Linked DNA regions of Homo sapiens: region 2 is linked to region 1. Evidence: fine-mapped expression QTL. A gene starts in region 1. The other region holds a variant in brackets. All regions are shown on one strand. Distances are from middle to middle.

The links. PIP is the estimated chance that this variant, and not a neighbour inherited with it, causes the effect. A credible set is the group of variants that fine-mapping cannot tell apart.
Region 2: its variant is the best candidate, but not a certain one, in a credible set for the expression of COL4A2-AS1 in thyroid (GTEx, PIP 0.71).

What each region holds. Positions count from the first base shown.
Region 1 is chr13:110,505,912-110,511,282 of GRCh38, reverse strand. It overlaps COL4A2-AS1 (COL4A2 antisense RNA 1), which reads left to right and starts at 3,104. Exons shown (of 3, transcript NR_046583.1): 1 at 3,104-3,184; 2 at 3,532-3,636. COL4A2 (collagen type IV alpha 2 chain) reads right to left here. Exons shown (of 48, transcript NM_001846.4): 46 at 4,677-4,868; 47 at 3,062-3,348. RefSeq lists enhancers at 2,682-3,181, 3,182-3,683.
Region 2 is chr13:110,351,293-110,356,663 of GRCh38, reverse strand. All of the region lies in intron 3 of COL4A2 (collagen type IV alpha 2 chain), which reads right to left. Among named protein-coding and RNA genes, the nearest start is that of MIR8073, 13 kb to the right of the region's middle. RefSeq lists an enhancer at 3,244-3,756. The variant C/G (reference allele first, on the strand shown) is at 3,078.

The sequences.
Region 1 (5,371 bases):
TGGCTGGGAGATGGCTGAGGTCTTCAAGGAAGCCTTTTTTTTTTTTTCATTTTAAAGTTCTACTTTCTGTTGCATCAACATGTTTAGCCTTTATGGAAGCGCACGGCAGGCCTCCTGGATCCCAGAGTTGGTGTATAAGGGCCATTTGGCTTGGCTGAGCAGGCTTTGAGTGGTAAGTGGGCTTTGGAATCTGTTTACTTAGAATAGAAATATCTCAGTTCAGTTTGCAGGGAAAAAAGGGGCTGTTCTATGATATATTTGGGCAGGGGCCCCAGTTTAAGCTTTCCTTTAAATACAAAAAAAAACCCAAAAACCTTTAAAAAGTGTTCTGCTCACATAAGGCAGAAGCCTGTCCAGCCCTGAGCTGCCTGCTCTTGTCTGCTAATGAGCAGGTAATAAGAAGTGGAGACGTCCTCCAGGGCACCTCCGGCTTCACTTTGGTCTGAAGGAGCTGAGGCCATGCTGGGAGCTGCCCAAAGGAGACACCTGGGACTCCCAGAACGAGGTCAGAAGGGAGCACAATGTGAGAAGTCTTAGAGGCTGGCACCAGCCAGGTAAGAGCTGAGTTTGCTGCGCACACACACATGCATACATGCACACATGCACACACATGGTGTACACTCATGCACACACACAAATGCACGCATGTACACACACACACACACAGTGCATGCTTGTGTACACACCCCTATGCACACACGTGCATAAGTGCACACAGTCCAGGCACACGCACCCTTTCCAATGTGCTTCTCTCAGTGGACAAACCTCTGGCTTGGTACTCATAGCAGCTCATGTATCTTAAGAGAATTGCCTGGACGAGAGGCTGACCTGGAGAAGGGGCTGTGAGGGCTCCAGATAGTAGCCAGAATTGAAAAAAGAGGAACTAAAATAACGGCTGGCTAGATACTTGTAGCCTCTGCCAGAGCAGCTTTGAGAGAGGCCACCGAGGGGAGGGGAGGAAAATGACTTTTGCTGCTGCAGTCTGCATCCGGGGCTCTGCCCTTGTCCTCCCTCCCACGTGGCGCTCGCTTGTAGGGAATGCAGAAAATGCATCCTCTGGGGCCACCCATCCTCACGGACAAAAGAAGGGTGAGCCAGGCGCTAGCCTCAGCACTGCTCTCGCCTTCTGCGTACCCACTGGGGACGGTGGGGCAGTTGCTCTCAGCCAAGCTGTCCTCTCCTCTCCAAAGTCAGCTCTTATTATGCTGAGATGCCAGCAGCCCTAGTGGTACCATATGCTTGTCACCACACAGAAGGGATCAAAGAGTATTTAAAGTGCAGACGAGGCACACAGCTGTCTTGGTTTAGGTCCTGCCTCCTAGACGGCAGTCAGGGCACATCTGGAGGGGGCACATCTCCAGTACACAGATGTGTCTGCTCACTTATCCATTGTCAGGGACAATGGGGACTTTCTGTTCTCAGAAGTCAAGGTACTTCTGGCCCATCTGTCCTGACCCAGGAGCCGTCTCAACCCATGCCTTTTGGGGATGTCAAGTTCCAGGCTTGCTGGGGCTGTCAGCCATTTATGTAAGCAGAGAGTTACGTGTGCAGAGGATAATGTCTGCTTATCTCGTGACAGTCATTTGAAACCTGATGCTAATGGAACAGGGGATGCCTGACCTTTCTGGATACTGTGTAATCATGCCCTTCACAAGGGAGAGGCTCATTTATTTTGAATTTAACAACGGGAGTGAAAAAAACAGGAGCAACCAAAGCTTACTTCCTGACACAGGGGCACCCTGAAGGTCACTGTGAAACAAAAGAAGGTTGCTCCAAAGTCACCTTCCATGATAAGCTTCTGGAAAGGTAGAAATTGTGCCTGTCCCTGCCCAGGATTTAGCATCCTGTTGCTCCAACTTATCATAGCAACGATACCTATTAAAATGCCAATACTTGTTTATCTTTTCCTTCCTTTCCTAGAATCCGGATTTTTTTTCCTGTTGTTTTGAAAGATTAGCAATCACTATGTAATTTATATTTTATGTTGTGTGTGTGTGTGTGTGTGTGTGTGTATATATATATATATATATATATATAATTTATGAAATATTTAACATGCTGGGCATCCAATCCATATAGCTGGAGTTATGACAGTTATAATGCATATAAATAAACTCACTGGAAGACCCACTGTCCTCAGTGAGACTTTCTTTTCTCCCTACAATAGTATACAGATGGTCCCTGATTTACCATGGTTAGACTTAGGATTTTTGAGTTTTCGATGGTGCAAAAGCAATATGTATTCAATTCACTATTTGATTTTTGGTGGGGTTACATCCAGATAAACCCATCATAAATTGAAAACGCACTTTCAACTTATAGTATCTTCATCTTACAATGAATTTATCGGGACGGGACCCTATTCCAAGTTGAGGAGCCTCTGCTTTAATAGGCAATATTGCAAGAGACACTATGGTGCTGTGGTCTCTCCCCTGGAGGTTAAGCTAAACCTAATCTGGCCAAAGCTGAGGGTTCTCTATTTTATACCCAAAGGCGATCCGGAAGGGTGGGCGGTGCCTTCCCAGGTCCTGGTTGTGCACCTTCTCCTGGCTTTCAAAGTATCCACAGGCTCTCTATTTTATACCCAAAGGTATTCCAGAATTTTCCTCACGAATATATATCCATTTTAAGCCAGCCAGTTAATAGGTATTTCTTCAGGGTATTCTAGGTTCCAGATAGATTCTAAATAAGATCAGGATTCTAGAGAAAAGTCTCCCATATATTTAGACTTCTGGTAAACCCAAAGCAGCTGCACCTTTGGTGTTGGTGTTGTACCTAGTAAGACGGATAACAGGCAAGTTCGTCCTGGTTACACTCCTTACAAAGGCCTGGTGGCAAATTAATGAGCCCTTTCTGGGTGGAGGAAGCCCTGTGCCCAGCATGTGGCTCAGTTAGCCAAGTGTAAGCTGTGTTCCAGCTCTCGCTCGCTTCCTGGGCCAACTACCCTTGTGCAGTGCACACCCTGGACTGCCGTGTCTGATTCTTCTCACAAAGGCAGCTGTTCTTGCTGTGTCCCCAGCAGGGTGTGGTTGGGGAGGGGAACTGGGCAAATACCACATACCATGAGGAAGGAATATCCGATCCACAAACTCCGCCACCCAGCTGGGCAGTGTGGGATGGAGACATCCTGACTGTGGACCGCGATGGCGATGGCCGGGGCCTCACACACAGAACAGCGGCTGATGTAGGGCTTGATCTCGTCCTCGGCCACGGGCATCATGGGCAGCGGCGCAGTGGTAGAGAGCCAGTAGGACTTGTCGTTCCGGCTGGCATAGTAGCAGACATCACCAGGGTTGCAGTACAGGAAGGGCATGGTGCTGAACCGCGCCAGGCAGGAGCCCGCCAGCCCTGTGGAAGGAGGGGTCATGAGATCACAGTGCAGTGTGGCTAGAAGACGCACCTGCCAGCCCCAGCCAGGCCCAGGAGGCTGTGTGTCACGGACTCGCCCCAGGGCACCTGGTGGAGTTTAGCCACCTACTGGAGGGCCAGGCTAAGGCTTCCCAATTTCTTTCTTTTTCTCTTTTTGATCAGACTCCACTGGCATTTTGGAACAGCTCTGTTCTTCTACAAGTTCTCACACATACTGGGCCAAGTTGGATCACCAGGGAGTGGCGTCTTCATGGAATAGCATTTTGGGTGAGCCTTACCTTAGTGGGGTCTTAACAGCACTGGCCCCAAGAAAACTCTGATGGCCTCCAAGGGGTCGCTCTTTGACCCCAAGGAGCCACCCCAGAAGGAGTCCTGGCCCTTCTCCCTTCCATGTAGCTTTATTGCTTCTGGAGACTAAGATAGCCTTTATCTCCTGGCCACAACGAATGCTGCAGCTAAGCAGGTTTCCCTCTTCACATGGATTGCTGAAAAGCTCAGACCCAGAAGTGCAGCCACCTTTAGCAAACATGCCCGGTGCTAGGCTGCCTCCTTGGCCCTGTTCCTAGATCTATTTTTGGCCCTTATCCTTGGCGGCCTTTGCCCCGTTGTTCTTTAGAAACTCATTGTGGAGGCGGGGCGCACAGGCAGGAATGTGAAGGCACCATGAGCCAGCAACATGCTTCCCGGGGGCAGAACGCCTGATGTAACCTGCACCGAGGAGGCAGAACACAGCCAGTATCCCAGAGACCCTTCCCGTCACCCCCTCAAAGAGGACCTCAGACTAAGCTACCTCCACTTGTAATTTGTGTGTATTGCATTTTCTGTATTCGAAGTCGCGTTAATGCCTTTCAAAGGCTTCCTTAAATAAGAGCATGCACACGTGTCCATGGGTCCATTTTCCTCGGGGGGCTGTATGGGAGAGTCTTACATGAACCCCAGCCCCTCATGGCCCCTGCCTGACTCCAAGTCTACAGAACTTGGGTCAAAAACAAGAAGGAGGTGAAGTAATTGGTGGTCTCCACTGGAGAGGGGTCGGGGGTCAGACGGGTCACATGGGAGCCTGCGGAAGTCAATACCAGGTTAAAAGGCAGGTCCCTGTGTTAAGGTCCTGAGGTTTAAGGGCTTTGTAAGGCTTCTGCTTCAAAGGCCGTTTTAATCTTTCTGCACTCGAGGAATGTAGATGGACCCTTCCGTCAGGGGAACTTACCAGCCGTGGAGGGTTTGGGAGTCTCGCTGTGGCCCTTTGATCTTGGCCACTTCCGGGCCAGCCCTGAGCAGGCAACGGGGGCCGGGTGGGAGGTACCTACCCAGGTCCTGGTTGTGCGCCTTCTCCTGGCCCTCGAAGTACAGCAGGCTGTATCCACTCCAGAGTTTGTTCATGCCCACTGGGCACATGGGCTCCTGGTCCGTCTGGCTGTGCTTCACCAGGAGGTAGCCGATGCTGACGCTGCGGCCTGGCATACCCGGCAGGCCCGGGCTCCCTGGACGGCCTGGTGCACCTGCAGCCCGAGAAAGAGAGAGAGTGGACGGCCTGGTGCACCTGCAGCCCGAGAAAGAGAGAGAGTGGACGGCCTGGTGCACCTACAGCCTGAGAGAGAGAGAGAGAGTGGACGGCCTGGTGCACCTGCAGCCCGAGAGAGAGAGAGAGAGAGAGAGTGGACGGCCTGGTGTACCTGCAGCCCGAGAGAGAGAGTGAGTGGACGGCCTGGTGCACCTGCAGCCTGAGAGAGAGAGAGAGTGGACGGCCTAGTGCACCTGCAGCCTGAGAAAGAGAGAGAGAGCAGCCCCCTTGACAGCCGCCCCACAGAAACCTCGGGACCCAGGAGTGCAGGGCAGTTTCCAGGTGCGCCTAGAACCATCGCTCTCCTTCCCCAGATCTTGGGGCTCAGTCTGTTGAGATCAGGAGACTCTTGGGAAGGATTTGATCCACACTTTGTTCTCAGTAGCATGAAATGATGGCAGTGAGGGCACTGGGCACAGAGGAGGGGTCCTTTCCATAAAA
Region 2 (5,371 bases), 150 kb after region 1:
CCTGTGGCATGCATGAGAAACTCCGGGGCATGGGCAGCAGCCCTGCCTTCTGCCTGGACATGTGGAGCATGTGCCTGGAGAAAATGCTGGCGGGGAACCCAGAGAGGTGGGCAGGAGTGGGCCACCACGGAGGGGAGGAGGAGGTGTCGGTGCAAACGGTGGCTCCCTCATGGGACACCCATCATGGTGATCAAAGGGAGGGCCATGTGAGGAGGAGGGACTGGCAGGTGCATCTGGCGGGATGCCAAACCCTCATCTGCACCACCGATATCACTTGCGACTTCATTTGAGGGGTGTCGGCAGAGGAAGTCCACTTTCTTTCCCCTTCGCCCTACGGGACACACTTATGCTCAGTAAGGAGGAGGAATGCCGGGAAGAGGCTTTCCTCAGGACCTATTCAGGCAAGTGGGTGACCCCATTGAGTGTTTCATCAGAGAAGGAGATACAACCTTAAGTGAGTCAGTGGGAAATGGAGGGAGTTCCCTGGATGGGCAATCCCGATGGGGCAAAAAGGTGTTTCTCATCCTTGATCTCAACATTCAGATCAAAGATGGACTTGGAGATTGGGCTACTGGACAAGTACCTTAGCTCTTCCTTTCAAATCGTGACAGTATTAAACGTTTTGAGATGATGGCAATCAGAGTGACCCTCTTTTCTCCCCTTTCTGATCAGCCGAGTCTCAGCGCAGGCCTCCTCTCCCCTGACAGGTAAGCTAGTACAACCTTCATTCCACAGGTGAGCCAGTGCTGCCCTCCGCCCTATACAGGTGACCTAGTGCAGCCCTCAGCCCCCACACAGGTGAGCTAGTACAGCCCTCCCCCCCACACACAGGTGAGCTAGTGCAGCCCTCCCCACTCACACAGGTGAGCTGTACAGCCCTCCACCCCCACACACAGGTGAGCTAGTGCAGCCCTCCCCCACACACACAGGTGAGCTAGTGCAGCCCTCCCCACTCACACAGGTGAGCTGTACAGCCCTCCACCCCCACACACAGGTGAGCTACTGCAGCCCTCCCCCACACACACAGGTGAGCTAGTGCAGCCCTCCCCCACACACACAGGTGAGCTGGTACTGCCCTCCCCCCACACAGGTGAGCTAGTACAGCCCTCCCCCACACACACAGGTGAGCTAGTGCAGCCCTCCCCCACACACACAGGTGAGCTAGTGCAGCCCTCCCCCACACACACAGGTGAGCTAGTGCAGCCCTCCCCCACACACACAGGTGAGCTAGTACAGCCCTCCCCCACACACACAGGTGAGCTAGTGCAGCCCTCCCCCCACACAGGTGAGCTAGTGCAGCCCTCCCCCACACACACAGGTGAGCTAGTGCAGCCCTCTCCCACACACAGTTGAGCTACTGCAGCCCTCCCCACACAAACAGGTGAGCAGTGGCTCACAGGTGAATCTTAATCTAGCTTTTCACCCTCAGCCAGCCTCTGCCAGCCTGCCTGGAGCCTCCCTATTATCACACAGTTACACCTAAGGGACCCTGGACAAGGCTGGCTTCTGGTGTTCACTGATTGAAACCTTATCATGCAAGTAAAACTTACCAGATGACAGAACCCTTTCCAATGTTAAGCAAATTGTATTTTACCACAGCCTTTTCACTCTCTTCTGAGTTACGTGTCAATGACTAAACAGGACTATCACTTGGGGACTCCCTCTGTAAGTTGTTTTGTGATAGCGGGTCTGCTGGAACCTTCCCCTTTCCTGTCACCAGCTGCATGTCCACGTGGAGGTGCAAGTGGCATGGCCAGGCCCACTCTGCCACTGCCGCCCAGCAGGGTCTTCCAGATAGTCCAGGGCAGAAGGGCAGGACACGCAGGCTTCTGACCCAAAACCTCCTGGCAAGAGTTGGCCTTGGGTTCCAGCAATGACTCCATGTTCCTTTTGTATGGGTGATTTTTTTTTTCTTTCAGCTAACAATTTTCTACTAGAGAACTCTCATCTGAGAGTTTCACGTTTTTTATGTTCTTCTTATAATTCTTTACCTAATATAGTATCTGATGCATCAGTTACTACTATAAAAAAAAAAAACTCCAAAAAGTGGAAAGTCCCAAACCCTTCAGAGAAAACAGTACCTTGAAAGCTTTTACATTTCTTTCCAGTGATCTTTTTGTCTTGAGTGAGGTAATGAGGCAGCTGGAGTTTATGGTGTAAAAGTAAACATATATAAAATCCTCTCACGCCCTGAAAACACGATCCTAGGTATTTGCCAATTTTTCAATGGCTCCAATGTTTATCTGCAATGGGGCTCATAAATCCCATGATTTGAATATGTGATTTCTAGAAATCCAACTCCATACTAAGCCAGAAAGTTTAGCACCAAAGCTCAAGACTAGATGGGCTGGCGCATTCATGCCTTTTACTACACGTGAGGGAGGCATGAACAGGCGCTTGGCAGAGGTCCTCAGTTGACCCAATAATTCATTGGCCAGTTGTCTGGGAAGGGCAGGCGGGCCTCCTGGGTCTATAGGGTAAAGCATCAACTCATATCCTCCATCTGCTGTTTCCCAAGCTATTTTTAATTTTGATTTTAAAGCCACTTGCCAAATCCCTCCATATAAATCAAAGGTTGAAATGATTTGAATGGTTTCAAATTGATCTAACAGACTCCTTATTCTAGGTTTACGATATTCACTGTATTTAGTTGTAGTGAGTTATTCATAACCCACTCAAAAATGAATGATGCATTCTTACTTTTGGAACTAGGACTTGTAGGCTGATTAAGATACCTCCCAGTAACACTTTTCTACATGTACCGATGGCTCCAGTGCTATATTGTGAGGGAAGGAATACCTCATTGAGAGGCAGCCCTGCTCATTCCACGCCAAGGCAGTTTCCATGGACATGCCAGCCGTGCGTGCACACACGCACGTGCATGTGTGTATGTGTGTTCCCACTGACATCTTACCTGTCCTCCAGAGAGAGTCTTAGGAATTCCAACATTTACAAGAGCCCGAAGTACCACACTTTGGAATGTGAGGTCTCCAGGAGGAACAGAAATATTGACTTATTAGGGCAGGGTGTGTGCTTCAGACAGTCTCTTAAAAACTCAACAAGTCTCTGACCTGAGC[C/G]TTGGCATCTCCTGAGAAGACATGGGTCTCTGAAACAGTCTCGAGACACAAATGCCTCCCTGAGGACCTCAGAGGAGGAGTGTGAGGACTGCTATGTGGTGTCCCATGTCTGTGGCCTGGCCACTCCCTCCAGCAGAGGCATACCGACTGCACGCACCTGCTGCCACCCTGCTCTCAGCCCTCCAGCCTATCCCTTCATTTTACTGCTTAACGCAAATCAAAGACAAGCCGCGATCCTATTCTTGTCAACTCCTTAATAAAAATGATGAGTTTCCTCCCACCCTGCAGCCTCCTCAAATCTCTGCTCACCCCCTTCATGAAGAAACACTGGCCCTGGTCCATATTTTAACTTCAGTCTCCGTGAGGCCTGTTTTTCCCTATAAGGTCTGGTTTGCCTCAGTGTTCTTTAAAGAATCCTGCATGGGTCTCACCAAGCATTTGACACACCTCTTTTTACAACAATCACAGGCTCATGAAAGAAACATCAATTCAATCCTCCATTAATTTCTCATTTCAAGTCTGAATTTCCAAGGCAGCAACTGTGTAGGGCAATTCCAATGCCCAGCTCTCACTGACGCCCCCTGCAGGTGTGCCTGGCTGCTGACCCCACTGAAGCTCGCAGGGCCAGGAGGTTCCTGCAGCTCCTACTGCAGGTGTGGAACGTGATCCAGGCTCGTGGGGCGTGCTGTAGCCGTTCAGCCCGGCTGGCCAAACTCCTGTGGTTGTCTGGGTGTCCTTCACCCCAAGGCAGGAAAGGACTCAAGGCCTGGCGGGACCAGTTTTACAGAAGGCCTGTGAAAGCTGGTGGGGGCACCCTACTCCCTGGAGAATGCCTGACTCTCACCTCCTCATAGGCACACAGAACCTCCCCACCCAGGGAACTCGGGACCACCGAGGAATCTGAACCGTATCCGGCACCTTCCTTCAACTGCACCAGTGAGAGGACACCTCACATCCCCAATTCCAAACTAACATGACAAAGGGCAAGGGGCTGGGAGGTCCTTCATCCACGCTTTCACTTTACAAATTCATTCACTCATGATCACTGATGTGAATTTCCTCTGAGCCATGCACTGTGCTGGGCTCTGGGTATAGAGTAGGGGGCAGATTAGACATTGCTCCTGCCCTGTGGCAGGTGACCAAGTAGACAAGAAGGTGAAATAAGTAAACAAACAACTAAACCCACATAATTTAAATTCTGGTAAGAGCTGCGAAGAAGAGGATGGTTAGAGAGCAAATTAGGAACAGTGGGTCCTTAAGTATTGCATTATCCTGTTCACAGAGAGGACTGGCTGTGTTCAGGCCTGCGCCCTAGGGCTCTGCTATGCTCCACTATTCCTTCTATGCCTACCTCCCAAGGCCAACCTCCCTGCCTGACAGCCTGAGGCTCTCACTGCTAGAAAGCAGAGACAGACTGGCTACCCCTAACCTCCAGGCCTAGGAGGGCACCACCTTCATGCCATCATCATCGTCATCATCATCATCATCATGATCATTATCAGGGAATCAGGAACATCCTGAGTTGGAGTGACTCGAAGCCCATTCTTCCTATGACTTTCAGGATGCTCCAACACTGCTGTGCTCCCCAACTTGCAGCTCAGGACTCCATTTCAATCTAGTGCCGCTTTTCAGTACCCACAGTTGAACATCCTTAGTCCCTACTCAGCTGACAGCCAGCTCAGTGGCTTCCCAGGCGCATTGGCCAGGAAACTTCAGACCTAAATTCCAAATCATGGAAGGAGTTTGCCTAGGGGGATGAATCATTACTTCCCTCAGCAAATGAATGAACATTTACTGAGGACCTGCAGGCAGTCCTACCTTGCCAACTATCTCATCACACACCAACCTGGAGGCCAGACCCCATTGGACTTATCTGCTCCTTCAAGAAAGGCAGAGGAATTAAAGAAGCTGGCAGAGGCACTGTGGACAAAGGGAAGGGGTGCTAAGTCTGATTATTGTAAGCTCTTGACATCTTTAGTGTTGTGGAACCAAAAGGAATAGTTCTGAAAAATAAATGTGAATTATACATTTTAGGAAATAAGTGTCCAAAGCAGCATAAACCTAAGAAGCAAGGTAGACTTGAAAGTCTCTGAGCTGCAAGGAAGAGATGAAGGACCGGTCATTCTTGCACCAGTTCTTAGGGACAAAACCCACGCCGGCAAGGGAGGAGCAGGGTAGAGAAAGCCACAGGCAGCAAAGAAGCAGGAGAGAAGGCTGGGTGCGGGGGCTCATGCCTGTAATCCCAGCACTTTGGGAGACCCAGGCAGGCAGATCGCTTGAGCTCAGGGGTTCAA